5 separate regions of the Homo sapiens genome follow, and regions 1, 2, 3 and 4 are each linked to region 5. The links come from fine-mapping of genetic effects on gene expression. A gene starts in region 5. Each other region holds a variant in brackets. All regions are shown on one strand. Distances are between the middles of the regions. Region 1 overlaps C1orf54 (chromosome 1 open reading frame 54). Region 2 overlaps RPRD2 (regulation of nuclear pre-mRNA domain containing 2). Region 3 overlaps FALEC (focally amplified lncRNA regulator of ECM1). Region 4 overlaps MRPS21 (mitochondrial ribosomal protein S21). Region 5 holds the start of TARS2 (threonyl-tRNA synthetase 2, mitochondrial).

What was found. PIP is the estimated chance that this variant, and not a neighbour inherited with it, causes the effect. A credible set is the group of variants that fine-mapping cannot tell apart.
Region 1: its variant is the best candidate, but not a certain one, in a credible set for the expression of TARS2 in monocytes (TOPMed, PIP 0.86).
Region 2: its variant is the best candidate, but not a certain one, in a credible set for the expression of TARS2 in cultured neurons (Aygun 2021, PIP 0.61).
Region 3: its variant is the best candidate, but not a certain one, in a credible set for the expression of TARS2 in sun-exposed skin (GTEx, PIP 0.69).
Region 4: its variant is the best candidate, but not a certain one, in a credible set for the expression of TARS2 in tibial nerve (GTEx, PIP 0.57).

The regions. Positions count from the first base shown.
Region 1 is chr1:150,275,447-150,280,281 of GRCh38, reverse strand. C1orf54 (chromosome 1 open reading frame 54) reads right to left here. Exons shown (of 6, transcript NM_024579.4): 3 at 4,483-4,541; 4 at 3,650-3,760; 5 at 541-639. The coding sequence ends at 544. The region is part of intron 1 of LOC124904414; the gene reads left to right. Among named protein-coding and RNA genes, the nearest start is that of CIART, 4.7 kb to the left of the region's middle. The variant A/T (reference allele first, on the strand shown) is at 2,159.
Region 2 is chr1:150,405,041-150,409,875 of GRCh38, reverse strand. The region is part of intron 1 of RPRD2 (regulation of nuclear pre-mRNA domain containing 2); the gene reads right to left. Among named protein-coding and RNA genes, the nearest start is that of RPRD2, 43 kb to the right of the region's middle. The variant T/AT (reference allele first, on the strand shown) is at 1,718.
Region 3 is chr1:150,518,707-150,523,541 of GRCh38, reverse strand. FALEC (focally amplified lncRNA regulator of ECM1) reads right to left here. Exons shown (of 6, transcript NR_186305.1): 3 at 2,137-2,209. Among named protein-coding and RNA genes, the nearest start is that of FALEC, 5.4 kb to the right of the region's middle. The variant G/C (reference allele first, on the strand shown) is at 2,093.
Region 4 is chr1:150,296,235-150,301,069 of GRCh38, reverse strand. All of the region lies in intron 2 of MRPS21 (mitochondrial ribosomal protein S21), which reads right to left. Among named protein-coding and RNA genes, the nearest start is that of MRPS21, 4.8 kb to the right of the region's middle. RefSeq lists an enhancer at 3,471-4,028. The variant C/T (reference allele first, on the strand shown) is at 2,248.
Region 5 is chr1:150,485,286-150,490,120 of GRCh38, reverse strand. It overlaps TARS2 (threonyl-tRNA synthetase 2, mitochondrial), which reads right to left and starts at 2,702. Exons shown (of 18, transcript NM_025150.5): 1 at 2,605-2,702; 2 at 2,067-2,263; 3 at 1,034-1,157. The coding sequence starts at 2,670. LOC124904416 (a long non-coding RNA gene) reads right to left here. Exons shown (of 2, transcript XR_007066600.1): 2 at 4,767-4,835. RefSeq lists enhancers at 2,608-2,877, 2,371-2,877.

The sequences.
Region 1 (4,835 bases), 210 kb after region 5:
GAATAAGAAGATTTTTCTAAATGTGATCCCTCTTCTTTCATTTTACTTGTTATTTTTTGAGACAGTCTCACTGTGTTGCCCAGTGGCAACAGTACAGTGGCCAGATCATGGCTCACTGCAGCCTCCAATTCTTGGGCTTAAGGGATCCTTCCACCCCATCCCCCCCAATAGCTGGGACTGCAGGCCTGTGCTACCACACCCAACTAATTTTTATTTTTAATTTTTTTAACGTCTTGTAGAGGAGTTCTTATTTATTTATTTTTAATTTTTTTGTAGAGACAAGGTCTGTTGCTCAGCCTGGACTTAAACTATGTTGCTCAGCCTGGTCTGGAACTCCTGGGCTCAAGCGATCCTCCCACGTCACCATCCCAAAGTGCTGGGATTATAGGGATGAGCCTAAATCTCTTCCTTCAGTGGCTGATAATTGACCAGGCTGGAAACACTAACTAGAGATACTGGTAAGAATTACTTCGGTTTAGTGTGGGAAGTTAAAAAATATTATTTCACAGACTCCCCCAAAGCCAGTGGCTGCACTCTTACCTTCTACATGAAATACATCCCCACCTGAACAAAGGCACACGACAGGAGGAGGGGAATAGGACTTCGCAAACTGGACACGGCATCGTTCAGATCTGGACTCTGCTAAAATACCGACATCCCCACACAGTAGGCTGGTGTCATTCCTCCTACCACTTCTCTGTCCCCCTCCAGAAAGACTGCCACCTCTTTACAACAACCTCTGTCTTCCTTTCCTTTGGGCTTAGAGAAAGATCCATCCTTCCCCATCACTGTAAGGAGTCCTTCTGTGCCTTTCAGCTATCCCTGACCATACCAGGGAGGCCAATTCAATTCAATTGTTTCTATTTTTTATCTATTATGTGCATTATACTATACTAGTCACTGTGCTAGGTGCTATAGAAAGGGACATAAATATGAATAAGACAAGATTCCTGTCCTCAAGGAATTTACAATCTAAAGAGAGTCTACTCTATATTTTATTTATTTGTTTGTTTATTTATTATTATTTTTATATCCACCAGGCTGGAATGCAGTGGTGCAATCTCAGCTCGCTGTAACCTCTACCTCCAGGGTTCAAACAGTTCTCCTGCCTGCCTCCCAAGTAGCTGAGATTACAGGCACCCGCCACCATGCCTGGCTAATTTTTGTATTTTTAGTAGAGACACAGTTTTGCCATGTTGGCCAGGCTGGTCTCAAACTCCTGACCTCAGGTGATCCGCCCACCTCAGCTCCCAAAGTGCTGGGATTACAGGCGTGAGCCACTGCGCCCAGCCTACTGTATACTTCAAAAAGAATTAACTGCCCTTATTGTCAATCTTTCACTTCCATTCTTACTGGCTTCTTTCATCTGTGCTCAACTATATGCAGGCTGCTCTTTGGTCCTATTCCCCTTTCCAGCCGTTGCTTCTCTTTTTCATTACCAGATTTTTTAGATGGTTGGTCTGTACTCACCTCCCTTTCCTCATAATGTACTCACTCTTTAACTCCACAAAAATCTAGCTTTTCTCCAAGCACTCAGTTAAAACTACTTTCTTGAGAGTTACAAGTGACCTCCTCCTCCTTGGCCTCTTGGTAGCTTTTGATGGATTATATTAAACTTTCTCTTCTAGACTCTATAATACAAACTTGGCTATCTGCCTACTTCTCCAGTCAAATCCTTCTCCATTCCATTCATTAATTTCTCTTCCTCCCACTCACTACAGGCACAGTCACTGGCCTTCTGAGCTTGTGTGTACTGGCTCTGTTGAGCTCATTTACTTTCATATCTGTGACTTTGCACTTAGAACTCTAGCCCTGATCTAGTTCAGTGACCTTTAGGACACCCTCATAGGGCTGTCACCATAAACTCAGCTTGGCCATTACCAAATTAATAACTTCTGTCCTAAACCACTCTGGCCTCCCATAGTTCCCACTTTGGTCAACCATTTTCCCAGACATCCATGTTTAAAACCCATGAGTTATTTTAACTCACTCCTCATTTATACTTCATATAAAATTATCACTCAAGCAAGGTATTTTCTTCATAATATTTATTTTTCTCCTCTCCATTCATAATGCCAGAGTACAGATTGTTTCTGGAACAACGCAAATCTCATGAGTTGCTTTCCACTAAATTATTTACATCCTGCATACAACCTGA[A/T]GAGTGGTTTTTCTTTTTCTTTTTTTGAGATGGAGTTTCACTCTTGTTTCCCAGGCTGGAGTGCAATAGCGCGATTTCGGCTCACTGCAACCTCCGCCTCCCAGGTTCAAGCGATTCTCCTGCCTCAGCCTCCCAGGTAGCTGGGATTACAGGCATGTGCCACCACACCCAGCTAATTCTGTATTTTTACTATAGACAGGGTTTCTCCATGTTGGTCAGGCTGGTCTCGAACTCCCGACTTCAGGTGATCAGCTCACTTCAGCCTCCCAAAGTGCTGAGATTACAGTCGTGAGCCACCACACCTGGCCGGTTTTTCTAAAATATCACTTTTCATCGTGTTTTTACCATAATGAAGAACTTACTAGGCTCCTTGTTGATTATGAGTCCAGACTTCAGCCTGACACCTGAGACTCTCTGAAATTTGCCCCTATGTTGCCACATGTGAAATTACTAAGCAAGTATTAGGAGCCTTGTAAATTTTATATTTTTCTTAATTCCCACTGTTCCCTTCCATATACCCTCTCCTTCAATCATACCCTATTTGCTAAACATATTATGCTTGTTCTATTCCCCCCTCCTGTGCAGCTCTTTCACTCTTTTTTTTTTTTTTTTTTTTTTTTTAGTATAGAGTCTCACTCTGTCGCCCAGGCTGGAGTAGAGTGGCGTGATCTCGGCTCACTGCAACCTCTGCCTCCCGGGTTCAAGTGATTCTCATGCCTCAGCTTCCCAAGTAGCTGGGATTACAGGCACGCACCACCACGCCTGGCTAACTTTTGTATTTTTAGTAGAGATGGGGTTTCCACCATGTTGGCCATTGAACTAGCCTTGAACTGCTGACCTCAAGTGATCCGACCACCTTGGCCTCCCCAAAGTGCTGGGATTACAGGCATAAGCCGCCATACCTGGCCTCTTTCACTCTTGGAATAACTATTCTTCCTCCTAATTGCTTCTGTCCTTCCATAACTACCCACCAATCAAAAGCTCATCTATTCTTCAGGGTGTATCTCAAGCACAAATGCCTCTTGAAAGCTTTTCAGACAACTCTAGCCTGTACTAATCTCTCTTCTTACATTGGCTAAAGCACTGCCAGTATCTTCTGCTTTCAAATTTATATATAATTTAACATCATAACATACCTTTTCATTTTGTTCTAAGTGTTTCGTAAACTTGAATTTTATAAATCCTTGAGGACAGTAACATAGATTTCTTTTTTATCAGCATCAGTTACCTTAGCAGCCTTAGGCATAGATTACATACCTATTGAATACTACTGAACTGAAATTTAACTGTACCATATCTTCCCAGTGTTCTGTAAACAGGGTTAGTATTAAATCTTAGTGAAACATGGCCAAGTTGAGATGAATACCTGCAATGAAGTACTAATTATTTGGTTCTCCCATCCACCAAAGCCTGGTATTCCAGCCCTCTATGTATTCCACGTCACTAGGGATGTCCTGTCTCCCCCCAGCCCCCAATCCCCAATCAACTCACAGGTTCCGTTGTTACTGGTTTCACAGTTACAGGCTTCGGATGGTCTGCACGTGCTGTTTCAAGACTAATGGTAGTCTCTATTGCTTCTGTTATGTCCTTATCCAACCTGTTCTACCCTCAGTAGGATTTGGGAAACACAGAGTTATCAGTTTTTCCATCCAACATCTTCATAGATTCTCTACTTAAAGTTCTCCCCTTCACCACCTCCACCCAGCCCAAAGACTTAAGCTCAGGGATTCCCCCCTACCCTATGCTTGCATAGATTTGTACCCATCTCATTCAAAAGTCCCTTGATGCCCCTCCTCAGTGTCTTAGCAAACTTACTGAGGACAATTTATAAAGTTCTGGCTTTTTTCTCCTCCCCAGATAGGTTAACAAATCTGTTTTGGGCCTACTACTTAGTTTCTCCTCATCAAACTCATTTTTATTCTTGTTAATCAGATACATTTCAACATTGCCCAGTTTCTTTTCTTTTCTTTTTTCTTTTTTTTTTGTAGATGAAGTCTGGATCTGTCACCCAGGCTGGAGTGCAGTGGAACGATCTTGGCTCACTGCGTCCTCCATCTCCCGGATTCAAGTGATTCTCCTACCTCAGCCTTCTGAGTAGCTGGGATTATAGGCATATGCTACCATGTCCAACTAATGTTTTTGTATTTTTAGTAGAGACGGGGTTTCACCATTTTGGCCAGGCTGGTCTCAAACTCTTGACCTCAAATGATCCACTCGCCTTGGCCTCCCAAAGTGCTGGGATTATAGGCATGAGCCACTGCGCCCGGCCAGTTTCTTTTTAATTGTTACTTATCCTAACCCTTTTAGATGTAGAGTTCACTCACCAGCCTGTCCTCTGACTCAAATATGGAGTAATCAATGGTGAAATCTGCACTAAAGTCATCTGCAGAGGAGAAAGAAAATCAGTAATAATTAAAGAAAAATGTAACTCTAGATCTGGAAATGAAAAGGGAAGAAATTACTCAGAATAGTTTAACTTAAGTTGTAACATTTATTGGTATAATCCAATTTTATTTAACTAATGTTAAAAATGACTGTGAATGTGTATGCATTTATATTTTCAATGTAGGTATCTAAAATAATTTACAAATTTGAAAAATTTTCAAGTTCTTCTTTTTTTAGAGTCAGGGTCTCACTGTGTTAACAGGCTGGAGTACAGTTGGTTCAATCATAGCTC
Region 2 (4,835 bases), 80 kb after region 5:
GTCAGGAGTTCAAGACCAGCTTGACCAACATGGTGAAACCCCCTCTCTACTAAAAATACAAAAATTAGCCGGGTGTGGTGGCATGCGTCTGTAATCCCAGCTGCTGAGGAGGCTGAGGCTGAATCGCTTGAACCCAGAGGCGGAGGTTACAGTGAGCCAAGATTGCGCCACTGCACTTCAGCCTGGGTGAAAGAGCAAGACTCCGACTCAAAAAAAAAAAAAAAAAAAGAATTGCAACATCAAGCCAACAACACTCTTACCACCCTTCTTTGCTTTATTCTCCCAAATAACACATAATTTTCCAATATACTATACAATTTATTTTTTGCCTATCTCCCCCACGAGAATATAGGCTCATAAGGGAAAGGATTTTTGTCAGTTTTATTTACTGCTGAATTCTCAGCACCTAGAATAGTGCTTAACACTTAGTTGGCGTTCAGTAACTACTTCTTGAATAAATAAATTAGGAAAAAAAAAGAGAAGGAAGACAAGAAAAGGGGAAAAATAGAGTAGTCCTCTATTCAGTTTGGCTAACAATCCCCTAAGACTTCTCTGTAAATGCACAGCATTAGGTAGGGGCTAGGTACAATGAGGTATTCTAGGGGCTGTTGCAGAAGTTAATCTAGATATAGTCAGTGTTCTCACAACATCAATTCCTCAACAATCTACAAGCTAAGCATTCAGCTTTAATTATTATGCAGAAGGGGAAAGGAATTAACAATAGGAAACTGGAAGGTTACTGATTTAAGTCTAAGTACCTACAAAATAAAACTGTTAACTTGGTAGGAGACGGGTTAGATAATTTTTAACTTGAATTATTTACATTTTATGTCTACCTTGCCTTGTTCCAACAATGGGCTAAGACAGCTGATACAGTGTTTTCAATCCATGTAGTCTTTACAGAAAACAAGCATTATGGTATAATGGAAAGGGCATCAGCACGAGAGTCCAAAGATCTGAGATGTAACCCCTGAAAAAGATTCATTTTCATTAGCTTAGGTCTGTCTTCATTTGCAAAACAGGCTGTAGAAAGGAAAAACAAAAAGAAGAAAAAGCCACATGGACAAAAATGTTATTTATAGTTGTAGAAAAACTAGAAGCAACCTAAAGAATAGTAACAGGGGAATAGTTAGGTAAAGGTGCATCCATATTACGTGGATAATAAGTACATGTCTATAAATAACATGAAGATGCTTGCATGAGAGTTAGTGAAAACACAGGAAAGAAAAATGTACATATACCATTATGTAAAACACTATTTAAATGTATATGTAAAGGTACATCCATATTATATGGATGATAAGTACATGTCTGTAAATAACATGAAGATGCTTGCATGAGAGTTCGTGAAAACACAGGAAAGAAAAATGTACATATACCATTATGTAAATTATGTAAATACACTATTTAAATGTATAGGCGGGCCAGGCGCGGTGGCTCATGCCTATAATCCCAGCACTTTGGGAGGCCGAGGCGGATAGATCACCTGAGGTCAGGAGTTTGAGCCCAGCATGACCAACATGGTGAAACTAAAAATACAAAAATTAGCTGGCCGTGGTGGCGGGTACCTGCAATCCCAGATACTCGGGAGGCTGAGGCAGGAGAATCGCTTGAACCTGGGAGGCAGGGGTTGCAGTGAACCAAGATTGCGCCATTGCACTCCAGCCTGGACGACAGAGTGAGACTCTGTCTCCAAAAAAAAAAAAAAAAAAAAAAA[T/AT]CATATGAATATTTTAAAATAAATGTTATTTTCTAAACTTTCTATGTTACAATTATAATACCTTTATATAAAAAATAAAAGCATAGGCCAGGTGTGGTGGCTCACACCCATAATCCCAACATTTTGGGAGGTCAAGATGTAAGGATCGGTTGAGCCCGGGGGGTCAAGGCTGCAGTGAGCCATAGTTGTGCTACTATACTCCAGGGTGAATGACAGGGCAAGGTCCTGTCTCCACACACACAAAAAAACCCATATAAAATAACTAGTTTAGATTAGATCGTCCATAACATACCCTCTGGCTTCAATATCCTATGATTAAATAAATATTTAACTGTAAGGACACTCAGTACAAATAATGGCAGTGTCACTTGAATATTTAAATAGAAGAAAACAACATCTTTTTTCAAAGAATCTACATCTTCTCTTTAAAAAGATAAATCTCCCAACTTCCTTAAAATCACTTAGTTGCTTTGTTGAGGGTTAACAAGAAAAAATTATCTGAAAAAGTATCAAGGTAGCAGAAAGAACACTGAACTACGTAGAAAATCTGAGTGCCATACTCCTCCACCACTATGTGAGGATGAGTACATTATCATTCAAACTGTTACATTTTGAGAGTGAAAGGGCATCACATCAGGTCAGGTGGTCACATACGTTAGGCTGAGCTAAGACGCAACTAGCCTAAGTCTATGTAAAATGAATGTACTCAAAAAAGTTTCTAAGGCCCCTTTTGGATCTAAATGTTATAATTTTATTTCTTTTTTAAGAACTGAAAACACTGAACAAATGGTGCTGTATGTATAGAAGTCAGAGATGCTTTGTTTACTAAATAATGTATTTTTTAAAGGAGTACCTTAATTTCTTGCTTAGGGATTCAGACTTACAATTAAGTTTATCTGGGGAGATACTAATGAATGAACTTAAAATGTACCTTAAACTCCTCTGATGAGATGTTCTTGTTGGGACTGAGAAACAATGAGAACCCTAGCACTGTATGTGCCATACCCAATAACCAAAAGTATTATGTGAATACCATATGCTCTACAGAATGAAGTACAAAGAATATACTAATACAGAAATTAGAGACATCAAGAGATGTACATTACTAGAGGTCATACCATATTCGAACTTACAAGAATTTACTGGCTAGGCATGGTGGCTCACGCCTGTAATCCCAACACTTTGAGAGGCCGAGGCGGGCGGATCACCTGAGGTCAGGAGTTCGAGACCAGCCTGATCAACATGGAGAAACCCTGTCTCTTACTAAAAATACAAAATTAGCCGGGCGTGGTAGCACATGCTTGTAATCCCAGCTACTCGGGAAGTTGAGCCAGGAGAATCACTTGAACCCAGCAGACGGAGGTTGCAATGAGCCGAGATCACGCCATTGCACTCCAGTCTGGGCAACAAAAGCAAAACTCCATCTCAAAAAGAAAAAAAGAATTTACTTGTAAGTACTTGGCAGGGCGTGGTGGCGCATTCCTGTAATACCAGCACTTTTGGAGGCCTAGGCAGGAGGATCATTTGAGGTCAGGAGTTCAAGACTAGCTTCACTAACATGGTGAAACCCCATCTATAGTAAAAATTAGCCAGGCATGGTGGCAAATGCCTGTAATCTCAGCTACTCAAGAGGCTGAGGCAGGAGAATCACCTGAACCTGGGAGACAGAGGCTCCAGTGAGCTGAGATTGTGCCACTGCACTCTAGCCTGGGCAACAGAGAGAGACTCTTGTCTCAAAAAAATTTTTTTACCTGTAAGTACTAAGCCAGAGTGTGAGAGAGAAAACAATTAACAAGAACCCTAAACAAATATTCAGGGGTAAAGGCAATTACAGTAGTCCCTCCTTAACATGGGGGTATATGTTCTAAGACCCCTAGTGGATTCCTGAAACCAGACAGTACAGAACCTGACTGCTGTCAACGGAAACACATATCTGTTCATATATTCCACCAAAAATTTAATGCCCTTTTCATCTTAACCAAGCAGTTAATCAAGCACCGTGGCCATAACTTTTGCAGTATGAGGTGCAACAGCAAAACTAGCACGAATTTCTTTTTCCTTCTTCATCATTTCACAGATAGGAGATTCATTCTTATCACAGATCTTAGCAACTTCAGCATATGATTCATTGTCTTATTAAGAACTTTAACCTTTTCACTTAAAGGAAGCACTTAACGGCTTTTCTTTGGCATATCCAAATTAAAAGCATCACTATTCTTGCGCTTTGGGACCGTTATTAAGTAAACTAAGGATTACTTGAACACAAACACTGCAATACCCTGGCGGTCAATATAACAGGGGCACTAATGGGTGGGAAGCGTCAACAGCATGGATACAAAGGACAAAGAGAGGATTCCTGTCCCAGGCAAGATGGCATGAGATTTCATTATACTACTCAGAATGGTGCACAATTTAAAACTTATGAACTGTTTATTTCTACAATTTTCCATTTAATATTTTAGGCATGGTTAACCAGGAAAGTGAAACTGTAATTATCAGAAAGACATTTGAGGCCATAGAGAAATACTCACTGATGAAGAACCAGAAGAAATATTATCTTCATAAAGATGATGAGAGAGAGAGAAACCAGGAAGTTTGACTCTCCCTAAATCGGCTTCATGTTCCAAGCATCAAAACATTCAGCTGATTTACTCTCTTAATATGATTCAGCCTACGGAATTATATGCTACCAAATATAGCACAAATCATGCATATATATATTTCTGTACTAGGCTATTTACCAAAAAAAAATAAAAAATTTTGTCATTACTAAAAATTTCCAGTATTTTCAAGCCTAATTTCATTTTATGTACTGACTTTAGAAGCCAAGTCCTGAGTAAAATAACTTCAATATACACTGAAAGAGCCATATCTAAATTAAAAATCTGAGTAGTATGTTAACATTCATAAGGTATCAATCCACCAGTTACTTAATTTACTACTCATTTCTGTTAAACATTGTTACATATGATTATCTAGAAATCTACTAAATCAAATAGTATACATTTTCACCCAGGATCTGCGAATCACAAAAATCTGTAACAAACCATACCAAATCCTCCAAAGGAAAAACTCCAAGCATCAATTTTTCTCTATCCTGCAAACAACCCTCAGCAAT
Region 3 (4,835 bases), 33 kb before region 5:
GCTGGGACTACAGGCATGCACACCATGCATGGCTAATTTTTGTATTTTTAGTAGAGACAGGGTTTCACCATGTTGGTCAGGCTGGTCTCGAACTCCTGACCTCAGGTGATCTTCCTGCCTTTGGCCTCCCAAAGTGCTAGGATTACAGGCATGAGCCACCGCGCCTGGTCGCCACATATGTAATTTAAAAAAATTTTAGTAACATTAAAAAAGTAAAATGAGACAGATGAAATTAATTTTAATAATATATGCCAGGCGCAGTGGCTCACACCTGTAATCCCAGCACTTTGGGAGGCTGCGGTGGGCGGATCACTTGAGGTCAGGAGTTTGAGACCAGCCTGGTCAACAATGCAAAACCCCATCTCTACTAACAATATAAAAATTAAGTTAGCCGGGCATGGTGGTGCATGCCTGTAGTCCCAGCTACTCAGGAGGCTGAGGCAGGAGAATCGCTTGAACCTGGGAGGCAGAGGTTGCAGTGAGCCAAAATCATGCCACTGCACTCCATCCAGCCTGGGTGACAGAGCAAGACTCTGTCTCAAAAAAAAAAAAAAAAAATATATATATATATATATATATATATATATATATACACACACACACACACATATATATGTATATATATATGTATATATATGTATATATATATATACGTATATATATATGTATATATACGTATATATATATATAGAGAGAGAGAGAGAGAGAGTTCATTAATCCAGTATACCTCCAAGTTTTCATGTAAACAACAGGAAAAATATTGATATCTTGCATCCTTTATTGTAGAAATCCATTGTGTATTTTACACTTACAGTACACTGCAATTCAGACCAATCACATTTCAAGTGCTCAGTAGTCACAAGTGGCTGGTGGCTACTGTGTTGGACAGTGCTGCCAACTTCTTGTTTTTTTTTTTTTTTTGACAGAGTCTCACTTTGCTGCCCAGGCTGGAGTGCAGTGGCGCCATCTTGGCTCATGGCAACCACCCCCTCCTGGGTTCAAGCGATTCTCCTGCCTCAGCCTCCTGAGTAGCTGGGACTACAGGCATGCACCGCTATGCCCAGCTACTTTTTGTATTTTTAGTAGAGACAGGGTTTCACCACGTTGCCCAGGCTGGTCTTGAACTCCTGACCTTGGGCGATCCTCCTGCCTTGGCCTCCCAAAGTGCTGGGATTACAGGCGTGAGCCACCACTCCCGGCCAACCACTACCAACTTCTAAGCTGGAAAGTCACTGGAATGACTGTTCAGAAAAGGATTACAACATGGCTTTTCTTTCTTTCTTTTTTTTTTTTTTTTGAGACAGTCTCACTCTGTCACCTAGGCTGGAGTGCAGTGGCGTAATCTCGGCTCACTGCAACCTCCATCTCCTGGGTGCACGCGATTCTCCTGCTTCCACCTCCAGAGTAGCTGGGATTACAGGCACAGGCCACCACACCCAGCTAATTTTTTTGTATTTTTAGTAGAGACGGGGTTTCACCATGTTGGCCAGGCTGATCTCGAACTCCTGCCCTCAGGTGATCTGCCCACCTTGGACTCCCAAAGTGCTGGGATTACGGGAGTGGGCCACCACACCTGGGTGGCTTTTCCATTTTTAAGACTTACTTAAAGAATCTGTATATACTGTTCCTACAATTTGTGTCCAGTCATTAAACAATAGCCAAGACTTTCCTGAAGAACAAATTGGGAGGGAGTGCTTGGCCTATAAATATCAAACTTTAATATAAAGCTACCAACTGTGCAGTATTGTGCAAGGAGGAACAGATAGTAGAATGGAAGGTCCATAAATAGACCCATGCAAATATGGACACTTGATTTATGACAAACATGGCCTGCAGAGGGGTCATAACAGTCTTTTCAACACATGGTGCTGGAATAACTGAATCTCCAAACGGAATAATATGAATCATGACCCTCTACCTCCCAGTAAATGTCAAAATCAACTCCAGGTGGTTACCAATCTTAAATGAGCAAATAAAACAATAACACTTTCAGAAGATAGGCAAGGGACTTGAGCAGGCATCTCACAGAAGATATCCAAATGATCAATTGACATATCACAAGGTGTTTAACCTCATTTATAAACACAGAAAT[G/C]CAAGTTAAACCCATACTGAGGTACCATTGCACCACAAACTCACCAGAATGGCTAACCACATTGACAACCTCAAGAATTGGAGAGGGTGTAGAACAAGTGGAACTCTCATACACTGCCTGTGGGAAGAAAAATTAGTACAACCACTTTGGCATTCTCTAGTTAAGCCAAATAAACTCTGACCCAGCCATTTAACTCCTAGCTGTATACCTGACAGAAATTCATGCAATATCTACCATTTTTATAATAGCATATTTGAAATAGCTTAAAACTGGAAACAATTCATGTATCTATCAACAGTAGAATGGATAAATTGGCATATTTCTGAAATAGAATTCCATATGAAAATGAGGCCGGGCGTGGTGGCTCACGCCTGTAATCCCAGCACTTTGAGAGGCTGAGACAGGCAGATCACCTGAGGTCGGGAGTTCGAGACCAGCTTGACCAACACGGAGAAACCCTGTCTCTGCTAAAAATACAGAATTAGCCAGGCGTATTGGCAGGCGCCTGTAATCCCAACTACATGGGAGGCTGAAGCAGGAGAATCCCAGGAGGCGGAGGTTGCAGTGAGCTGAGATCGCGCTGAGCCAAGATTGCACCACTGCACTCTAGCCTGGGCAACAAGAGCAAAACCCTGTCTCAAAAAAAAAAAAAAAAAAAAAAAAAAAGAAAAGAAAAGAAAAGAAAATGAATGAACTACAGGTATATAAAATAACATGAATGCATATTTAAAAAGTCAGACATGCACAAAAAATATGTTGTAATTATTCTGATTCCATTCTTATGAAGTTCAAAAATTGGCAAAATGAAATAATTGTGCATTATTCACAATAGTTGAAAGATGAAAACGACCCAAATGTCCATCAACAGATGAATGGATAAGCAAAATGTGGCATATACACACATTGTATGTATACACATACAATGGAATATGATTCAGCCATAAAAGGGAATGAAGTTCTGATACATGCTGTAACATGGATGAGCCTTGAAAACATTATGCTAAGTGAAATAAGCCAGATGCAAAAGGACAAATATTATAGGCACATTATATGAGGTACCCAGAATAGGCAAATTCATAAAGACAGTATATTAGGAGTTATCAGGGGCTAAAGGGAGGGGGGATGCCAGTTATTGCTTAATGGTTACAGAGCTTCTGTTTGGGGTGATGGAAAAGTTTTGGAATAGATAGTGGTGACGGTTGTACAATATTGTGAATATAATTAATGCCACTGAGTTGTACACTTAAAAATGGTTAAAATGGCAAATTTTGTCATACATTTGTTTATTTATTTATTTTTGAGACGGAGTTTCACTTTTTGTTGCCCAGGCTGGAATGCAATGGTGTGATCTTGGCTCATGACAACCTCCACCTCCCGGATTCAAGTGATTCTCCTGCCTCAGCCTCCTGAATAGCTGGGAATACAGGCATGCACCACCACACCCGGCTAATTTTGTATTTTTAGTAGAGATGAGGTTTCTCCATGGTCAGGCTGGTCTCGAACTCCCGACCTCAGGTGATCCGTCTGCCTCGGCCTCCCAAAGTGCTGGGATTACAGGCATGAGCCACTGCGCCAGCCTATTTTATTATTATTTTTTGAGACAGAGTTTCGCTCTTGTTGCCCAGGCACAATCTCGGCTCACTCCAACTTCTGCCTCCCAGGTTCAAGCGATTCTCCTGATTCTCCTGCCTCAGCCTCCCGAGTAGCTGGGATTACAGGCGCCCACCACCATGCCCGGCTAATTTTTTTGTATTTTCAGTAGAGACGGGGTTTCACCATCTTGGCCAGGCTGGTCTCGAACTCCTGACCTTATGATCCATCCACCTCAGCCTCCCAAAGTGCTGGGATTACAGGCGTGAGCCACCGTGCCTGGCCCTAATTTTGTATTTTTAGTAGAGATGGGGTTTCTCCATGTTGGTCAGGCTGGTCTCAAACGCCCCACCTCAGGTGATCTGCCCACCTCGGTCTCCCAAAGTGTTGGGATTACAGGCATGAGCCACCGCCCTTACATTTATTTTACCATACTTTTTAAAAATTAATAATGTAATATACCAAAACCCATTGAATTGTACATTTTACATGGGTGAATTAATGGTATGCGAATTATATCCAATAAAGCTGTTTACAAAATCCAAAATGACTGCTTTTAGGGTTCATTTTTAGGGGTAAACTAGTTTTAACAAGCGATTGAGTGATAACTCTAAATATCAAGGGAGCAGGATTCCTTCATGGGCACGGGAGGAGGGCGTCATCAGGAAGCAGCACTGTGGGGGCCTCTGGGATGCTTTGGCTTGACTTAGGCATTTGTTGCAGGAGGTTCATTTTATAACCATCCATTGAGCTATAATACATTTATGTTTTGCATACTTTTATTATTAATTTGTTTGTTTGTTGAGACAGAGTTTCACTCTTGTCGCCCAGGCTGGAGTGCAATGGCATGATCTCAGCTCACTGCAACCTCTGCCTCCTGGGTTCAAGTGATTCTCCTGCCTCAGCCTCCCAAATAGCTGGGACTACAGAGGCACGCCACCACACCCAGCTAATTTTGTATTTTTGGTAGAGACGTGGTTTCACCATGTTGGCCAGGCTGGTCTCAAACTCCTGACCTCAGGTGATCCGCCCAACTCGGCCTCCCAAAGTGCCCGGATTACAGGCGTGAGCCACAGCGCCCGGCCAGGGATTTTCAAAGGTTATGTTAACTATGTAATTTTGGCCTTATGTACTGACTTATAACCTAACTTTG
Region 4 (4,835 bases), 190 kb after region 5:
GCCACCGCGCCCGGCCAATTTTTGTATTTTTTTTAGTAGAGACAGGGTTTCATCATGTTGGCCAGGCTGGTCTTGAACTCCTGACCTCAGATGATCCACCCGCCTCGGCCTCCCAAAGTGCTGAGCTTACAGGGGTGAGCCACCGCGCCTGGCCAAATTTATTTTTCTAACCACTCCTCTTCTTTCTTAAAAAGAAAAGAATATAATTCTTTTCTTTTTAAGCAATGTAAATTGCTTTTTTCCAAATCCTACTCCTACTTTGGTGTTTTAATCCCTGAAGAAAAGGTAATACTGTGCTTCTTAACCAGGGTAATTAACAGAATGCCAAAGGATACAAGTTTCTGGACAAATTTGATGCATCTGCCTGGAGGCACCAATTTTAACTCGAAGGAGTGGGGGTGTTACCCATAAAACAGATGCAATGGCAACGAATACGAAGTTCACCTTACATTTTAATTTAGGGAAGCTTCAAAGAAATTCCATGTTTGCTTATAGTAGCAGAACCCCTATAGTTCATTCACTCTCCTCTGCTGTTAACGACACTTCAGTAAAAAAGTTTGACAAACATTAAATAAGTGACAAAAAAGATAAAGGAACATTTATGTTCATTAAGTAGACATTTAATGAGAGCTTTGGATGTGCCAGACACTTTGGTAAATCCAAGAGATACACAAATGAAAAAGCATAGGTTTCTGTCCTTAAGGAGGCTACAAGCCTTTTTTTTTTTGAGACAGGGTCTCACTTTGTCACCCAGGCTGGAGTGCAGTGGCGCGATCTCGGCTCACTGCAACCTCCAGCTCCCAGGTTCAAGCGATTCTCCTGCCTCAGCCTCCCGAATAGCTGGGATTACAGGTATGCACCATCATACCCGGCTAATTTTTATATTTTTAGTAGAGACGGGGTTTTACCATGTTGGCCAGGCTGGTCTTGAACTCCTAACCTCAAATGATCCGCCCCCCTCAGCCTCCCAAAGTGCTGGGATTACAGGCATGAGTCACTGTGCCCAGCCAGGAGGCTACAAGTCTATTATAATAATTTTCAATCCTGGTGAAATCTCATGGTATGTTTTTTAAAATGCTGCCATCCAGGTTGCAACCCCTGGAGATTCTGATTCATCTCAGATTGGGCCCTGGCATTAGTTTTGTTTTCTTGATGGTTCGTTCCCTAGGTGATCCTAATAGGCAGCCAGGGTTGAAACCACAGGGTGTCACACTGACCACTCTCCGGCTCTCTAATATTAACACTTCGACCCAGGAAATAGGTTTGTGTAAAATGCCAGTCACCAACAAAAAGAGAACCATAAAAGTAGTATGTGGGCTGGGTGTGGTGGCTCACACCTGTAATCCCAGCACTTTGGGAGACAGAGGCGGGTGGATCACCTGAGGTCAGGAGTTCGAGACCAGCCTGGCCAACATGGTGAAACCCCGTCTCTACTAAAAATACCAAAACTAGCCAGGCGTGGTGGCAAGTGCCTGTAATCCCAGCTACACGGGGGGCTGAGGCAGGAGAATCACTTGAACCTGGGAGGCGGAGGTTGCAGTGAGCCGAGATCATGCCACTGCACTCCAGCTTGGGGGACAAGAGCGAGACATCGTCTCAAACAAACAAACAAACAAACAAACAAAAAACAGAAAAAAAAACAGGAAAAGCAAAAACTGAGTGTTGATTAAATTAAAAATATAGTGGCTGGACAAGGATTTTTAAAAGAGGCAGATAAAAAGGGGTATAGACAATCTTAGACAAAGAAATAAGAGTCTTCTCTCAAAAGATAAGAGCTGGCCTTATATTTTCTGCAAACCTGGTATCAGTGAAGAGGATCAGGAAGGAGATTAGAAATATTTTGTTTCTCAGATTCTGTTTCAAATTTTAGGTGTAAATGGGGATGCATTCCATATATGATATGGGGCATCACTGCAGTCTCTGCCTCCCAGGTTCAAGCGGCTCTTCTGCCTCAGCCTACGGAGTAGCTGGGATTACAGACCTGTGCCACCATGCATGGCTAATTTTTGTATTTTTAGTAAAGACGGGGTTTCGCCATGTTGGCCAGGCTAGTCTCGAACTCCTGGCCTCAAGTGATCCACCATTCTTAGCCTCCCAAATTGCTGAGAATACAAGACTGAGGCACTGCACCCAGCCGCTACTCTCTTGATACAACTGTAAGAAGTGGTTCAGCTGGGCATGGTGGCTCACGCCTGTAATCCCAGCACTTTGGGAGGCTGAGGTGGGCAGATCACGAGGTCAGGAGAT[C/T]GAGACCATTCTGGCTAACATGGTGAAACCCCGTCTCTACTAAAAATACAAAAAATTAGCCGGGGTAGTGGCATGCGCCTGTAGTCCCAGCTACTCGGGAGGCTGAGGCAGGAGAATCGCTTGAACTCGGGAGGCGGAGGTCACAGTGAGCAGAGATTGCGCCACTGCGCTCCAGCCTGGGCGACAGAGGGAGACTCCGTCTCAAAAAAAAAGTGGTTCAATAAATAATACTGTACCACAAATTTTGTTGTTTTTTGTCAAAGTAGCTAATTTTCTAAAAACAAAATTCTTGCTTTTGTGTTATCTATACTTTAGGAATAAGGGAACTAAAACTGAGCCTGTTGGAAATTTGTTTTACCATTAAGCAACAGCTATCCTTTGATCTTTCAATAACAAACATCTCAACAACCATGGCCAGAAGACCTATCTAAATCTACCAAAATAAATCATACAGAAGAAGATTTACAGGGAGAAGTCAGAAAAAAAGAGTGAAGTTACACGTAATACATGCCTTTTCCCAAATTCAACATTCATCTCCCTAGCTAACTCACTGCAGGGTCTGGATGTTACCTATAAAGACGTTCATTTTAGGCCAGGTGCAGTGGCTCAAGCCTGTAATCCCAGCACTTTGGGAGGCCAAGGCGGGTGGATCATGTGAGGTTGGGAGTTAGAGACCAGCCTGACTAACCTGGAGAAACCCCATCTCTAGTAAAAATACAAAATTAGCTGGGCTTGGTGGCGCATGCCTGTAATCCCAGCTACTCAGGAGGCTGAGGCAGGAGAAACGCTTGAACATGGGCGGCAGAGGTTGCGGTGAGCCGAGATGGCACCATTGCACTCCAGCTTGGGCAATAAGAGTGAAACTCTGTCTCAAAAAAAAAAAAGTTCATTTTGTACTTCCAAGATAGCAAAGTAGGGCCAGAGAAAGGTCATTAGACATAATATACTTCTCAGACATGCCACCAGAAGGTATGAAATAGGAGAGTTAGAAATGAGGAGAAACAGAGAAAAATGAAACAGGATACCTTACAACCTGGTACTTATCTTTACTCTCAGCATAGGTGACAATGTAGAGGGAACAGCTTCAGCCCAAGGATATAATTGTTATGCACATAGAATTAAGTGATGTGGCTGACCCCAGACCAGATTTTTTTTTTTGAGTCTTACTCTGTGGCCCAGACTGGAATGCAGTGGCACGATTCTGGCTCACTGCAGCCTCTATTTCCCAGGTTCAAGTGATTCTCCTGCCTCAGCCTCCCAAGTAGCTGAGATTACAGGCGCCTGCCACCACATATGGCTAATTTTGTATTTTTAGTAGAGACAGGGTTTCGCTATGTTGGCCAGGCTGGTATTGAACTCCTGACCTCAGGTGATCCACCCGCCTGAACCTCCCAAAGTGCTGGGATTACAGGCATGAGCCACCACGCCTGACCCTAAGACCAGATCCTTTTAAAAGACATAGAAACCATTCTGAGCCTGCAACTGCTTCTCATTTACACAGCTTCTGACAGCATTTTTTCTTTTTTTTTTTGTAGACAGAGTCTCGCTCTGTTGCCCAGGCTGGAGTGTAGTGGCACGCTCTCGGCTCACTGCAACCTCCTCCTCCCGGGTTCAAGCGATTCTCCTGTCTCAGCCTCCTCAGTAGCTGGGACTACAGGTGTGTGCCACCACGCCCGGCTAATCTTTTGTATTTTTAGTAGAGACGGGGTTTCACCGTGTTAGCCAGGATGGTCTCGATGTCCTGACCTCGTGATCCGCCCGCCTTGGCCTCCCAAAGTGCTGGGATTACAGGCGTGAGCCACCGCGCCCGGCTGACAGCATTTTTTTCCTCACTGTGGTCTTCTGCCATCCAGCCTTCCACACCTAGAACTCTCTGCTTTGCTAAGAACTAGGTTCCCTTTCCTTTGCCCTCTCAGTCCTCAAGAACCCTACCAATATTTAAACCCAATCAGATGAGGATTCTGGTTTTTTTTTTAAAGCGACACCTGCTGAAATGACAAGACAAGGATTCTAAATTGGAAAATGAACCACCATAAGTCTTTCCATTTCTAGTAAGACTAGTAATAATTATTAAAGAACATTGCACTAAAAAGATGTGCTTTAGGCTCCTCTCCACCATTCAATAACTGCATAACCCAATAAAGATAATCTGATCTTCCAAGGCTTCCCTTACTTGTGAAATAAAGCTACCACATTAAAGGCCTTAATGCAGCCCATGCAATATCTTTCCTACATTTTTTTTAAGAGACATGGTCTCACTATGCTTCCTAGGTTAGAGTGGAGTGGTTATTCACAGGCACAACAAGAGTGCACTCACACTACAGTCTTGAACTCCTGGGTTCAAGCAATCCTCTTGCCTCAGCCTCTGGAGCAGCTAGCACTACAGGAGCCCCTTCCTTACAATTCTTTGATAATTCAACTCAACAAGCGTTTGTTTCTCCAAATGTTACTTCACATTGGGGAAAGAAAATGACGCGTGAGTCATACCAGAAAGTCAAAATCCACACAACTGGTGAGAAGGGAAGGTTAAGAACTTTTTGCTTGAGAATTCAGTGGTAAAGTACTACTAGGGCTGGGCCGGATGCAGT
Region 5 (4,835 bases):
AAAAAAGACTGAATAGAAAAGAAAGAAGGCCAGTATTTTTTCTTCTTTCAGTGCATAGAAGCTCCAGCCCCACCCCTCAATCCTTGGTTCTTCCCAGTTCCAAAGCATAGAAGCTGGAGGCCAGTCAGTCTTCTGCTGCTCCTGTAAGCTTTTAGGGCTTCAGAATAATTTTTCTTTTTGAGACGGAGTCTCGCTCTGTCGCCCAGGCTAGAGTGCAATGACGCGATCTCAGCTCACTGCAACCTCCGCCTCCAGGGTTCAAGCAATTCTCCTGCCTCAGCCTCTCAATTAGCTGGGATGACAAGTGCTCACCACCACGCCCAGCTAATTTTTGTATTTTTAGTAGAGACGGGGTTTCTACTATGTTGGCCAGGCTGGTCTTGAACTCTTGACCTCAGATGATCCACCTGCCTCGGCCTCCCAAAGTGCTGGGATTACAGGCGTGAGCTACTGTGCCTGGCCAGAATAAGCTATCTTCTTAACACAGTGGTTACTTAGGTCTCTGTTTGGTCTTTTAGTCCTATTTTTTTCTGTCCCACGAATCTAGTGCGATATATTCCTCTTGGATTTGGTCACTATTTACACATAGATGGCAGGAGAACTCTATTTTTCTGGATCCTAATAGGCAAGGTCTGTGCTACCTGAGCTGACATGAAGAAGACAAGGTGGGGAGGTGACCAGGTTGTTTGCTCAGCTGTATAAGCCATGTTAGAATTGAATATACACTACAGATGACTTATAATGTACGTGCTCAAGAGTTGAGGGGGCTGAATTTACATATTTATCCTTTCGTTTTTTCAACATATCATCTCTCTCCCTCTCACTAGCACAAATGTTTGCTTAATAGATCGAAGCTAAGTTAAAAACTTTCACCATAAGTTTCCTAACCAGAAATAGTCAAGACAGTCTGTGGTAGGTCTCCCTCCCAACTGCAAATGGAGAAACTGCGGCAAAAGAATAAAATGTTAGAATTTCCTGCTTCAATATCTCTTGGTTTAGTAGTCACTGTATTCCTGATAAGAAAGAAACTTACTGCTTTCCCCTCTGGGGAATCGAATGTCAGAAATCTGAGGTCAGAATCTGTCTCCAAGGGCCGCTCCAGATCATAAGGTTCTCCATTCACTTGAGCAGCCACTGCAGTATCTGCCAGTGTTGAACTTCAGCAGTGGAAGGTGGGGATGAAGAAAAAGACAGGGTTACAAGGCACAAAAAGGAAAATATCACATGTTCTGATTCCTATATGAGAGTTTAAAAAGTTGATCTCACAGTGGTAGAGAATAGAGTGATAGTTACCAGAGGCTGGAAAGGATGGGGGAGGGGAGATGAAGAGGTTGGCTAATGGGTACAAAAATAGAGTTAGACAGAAGGAATATGCTCTAATGTTCCATAGCAGAGTTGGGTGAATACAGTTAATAATAATTTATTGTATATTTCAAAATAGCTAGAAGATTTGAAATAGTCCCAACACAAAGAAATGATAAATGTTTGGGGTAACAGATATCCTGAACACCCTGATTTGATCATTACATATTGTATGCATATATCAAAATATCACATATACCCATTCATATGTTCAATTATTATGTATCAATTATTAAAAAGTAAATTAATGATTTAAAACAGACAGGGTTACAATCCACAGTGGGGAGAAAGTTGCTCATCTCTCAGCAACTGTAAACTTGCAAAGGTGAAATGAGTTACCAGAGCAACAGAAGCTTTCATTTCTTTCCCCAATGAAAGGACAGAGACTCTGATGCAGAAACTAATACAGATAAAACAAATCTCAGGCCGGGTTTGGTGGCTCATGCCTGTAATCCCAGCACTTCGGGAGGCTGAGATGGAAGGATCGCTTGAGCCCAGGAGTTCAAGACTAGCCTGGGCAACATGGAGAGACCCCGTCTGTATAAAAGAACAACAACAAAAAACAAAAACAAAATCTTCAGGAAAGGCTATCTTAATGGGGACGGAACAGAAACAAGCAGACCAAGTTTTCTTCCCCTGCTCAAGTGAAGAGAAAGTAAAGGGGCAGAAGGATAATCCTGGTAGTTACAGGATGGGCCTGTTACCTGATCTGCCGGGCTAGTTGGTAGGGGGTTGTGTTCCATGCCACAGCATCAATTTTCTGGCCTCCAGGAAGTGATATCTTAATAGTCCGGGGTTCCTTCTGTGCCATGCTTGCTAATCTCTTTACCTGAGCAGCCCACAGCTCCTCAAAAAGGCCAAGCCGCTCTGCCAACCAGCGTGGAGGGGTCGACACAACTGCCTGGAGGGAAAGATATATTAGCAGGTAACACACGTCCCATCATTCTTTCTTAGAATTGCAGATGATGGCACTTTGGGATGGTTAAGTGGACTTCGTCCGAATTCCTACTTTTTAAGGGGATTGGGTGATACAAGACCCTAGGCTGGGGGTCCTTCGAGCTCAGAGTCCCCCAGACCGCTAACTCGAGAATTAGATAACGAGTTTAGATACGAGTCCTTTTCTGGGGACTCGGAGGACCAGGGAGAGGAGGAGTGGCGTGAGGCTGGGTTAACATAAAAATTTGGGGGCTTCGGCTGGGCTAAGTCTGATGCGGATCGGAGCTTTGGGGGTGCCTCACGCACCGTGTGTAGCCTGCAAGCCTGTAAACCTTGGAGCCGGAGACACCGCCACCTCTGATACAGGGCCATGTTCCTTCACACCAGTGCCTACATCCTCAAACAGATTATCGCCGCTTCTCCTCCACGTAATTCTTCATTGGCTTCTGGTCCAACAAAGTCCGTGTCTATTGGTTACTACAGCTGCCACTCTAGTCTGGCACCACCTCCAGGAACTCCGAAGAGGTACACCCTACACAGCACCAGCAGCGGTGTGAGTGGTTCCGGCTGACCGGAAGACCGAAAATGTAACACACCCTCGCTATTCCCCCAGACCCGTGGCGTTTCAGCTGAAACCCAAAAATAGCAATTAGGCGTCCTGTGGCTTTGAGGACAAGGGCAGGTGAACTTTTGAGGGCGAGAGTGGGAGAAAACCAGACAGGAAATGGTAGTAATTTCCCTTTAACTATACATTTTATTTTACGTGGTCCTTACAGCAAGTAGCAAAACTTAAGAGCATAGACTGGGGAACCAGACAGACCTAGTGTAAATTCTGGATCTGCCATTAACTATGTAATTTTGGGAAAATTATTAAACTTCTCATATTTATTTAATAGAGACCGGGGGGGGCGGGAGGGGGGGGCGGGTCTCACTATGTTGGCCAGGGTAGTCTCGAACTCCTGGCCTCAAGCAATCCCTCCCCTCCCCCCCACCAAACCGCCACCGCGCTCCGGCCTCCCAGAGTTCTGGAATTACAGGCATGAGCCGCCTTGCCTGACCTATTTAATTTCTCTAAGCCTCAATTTTCTCAACTATAAAATGAGAATAGTGTTGCTCCCAATTGTTGAGTTAAATTTTATGTAAATCGTCTAGTGTGGCCCATGGTTTTTTGGTAATGGGCAAAAGCAACAAGAAGCTATTATGATAAATGACTGTAACAGTTTTATTTTTTAATTTTGAGACAAGGTCTCACCGTTGCCCAGGCTGGAGTGCAGGGGTACAATCATGGCTCACTGCAGTCTCGACCTCCTGGGCTCAACTGACCACCTCAGCCTCTGGAGTAACCACTTTAAAGCTGGAGCAAAGATGGCCGCGCGCAGTGGCTCACGCTGTAATCCCAGCACTTTGGGAGGCCGAGGCAGGTGGATCACCTGAGGTCAGGAGTTCTAGACCAGCCTGGCCAACATGGTGAAACCCCGTCTCTACTAAAAATACAAAAATTAGCTGGGCGTGGTGGTGGGCGCCTGTAATCCCAGCTACTTGGGAGGCCGAGGCGGGTGGATCACCTGAGGTCAGGAGTTCTAGACCAGCCTGGCCAACATGGTGAAACCCCGTCTCTACTAAAAATACAAAAATTAGCTGGGCATGGTGGTGGGCGCCTGTAATCCCAGCTACTTGGGAGGCTGAGACAGGAGAATCGCTTGAACCCGGGAGGTGGAGGTTGCAGTGAGCCGAGATCACGCCATGCACTCCAGCCTGGGGGACAAGAGCGAGACTTCATCTCAAAACAAAACAAAAACAAAAAAGCTGGAATCAAGAATCTGCAGAGGTCAGTTTGAGTCCCTTTATACTCATGGTGCTTAATAGGGACTTTATAGACCTTTTAATCTTTTTTTTTTTTTTTTGAGATGGAGTTTCACTCTTGTTGCCCAGGCTGGAGTGCAGTGGCGTGATCTCGGCTTACCGCAACCTCCGCCTCCCCAGGTTCAAGCGCTTCTCCTGCCTCAGCCTCCCGAGTAGCTGGGATTACAGGCATGTGCCACCCCAGGCCCAGCTAATTTTGTATTTTTAGTAGAGACAGGGTTTCTCCATGTTGGTCAGGCTGGTCCCGAACTCCCAGCATCAGGTGATCCGCCTGCCTCAGCCTCCCAAAGTGCTGGGATTACAGGCGTGAGCCACCATGCCCGGCCGAGACCTTTTAATCTGACAGATGAGGAATTTAAGGTCAAACAGCAAGTGCTGATGGTGATTTCTGAATCCAAGCTTGGTTTTCTTTTACCACACCATGCTTTCTCTAGAAGAGTTTGCTCCCAGTATACTCCCCCATCACCTCAGAAAGAGGTGCCTGACTAGAATTTTAGCTCTCTGCTCCCTACATAAGCCCTTTGCCTCTAATTCCTATCCCAGCTCTCAACTTCCTTTATCCTTTCTCTTCCCTCTCCCTGATACATCTAGGACACAGGACTAGGTAAATTTCATCAAATTTACTCAGTAAATATGGGAACATGGTCAGATTTGTAGTAAAGTATGAAGGGAAA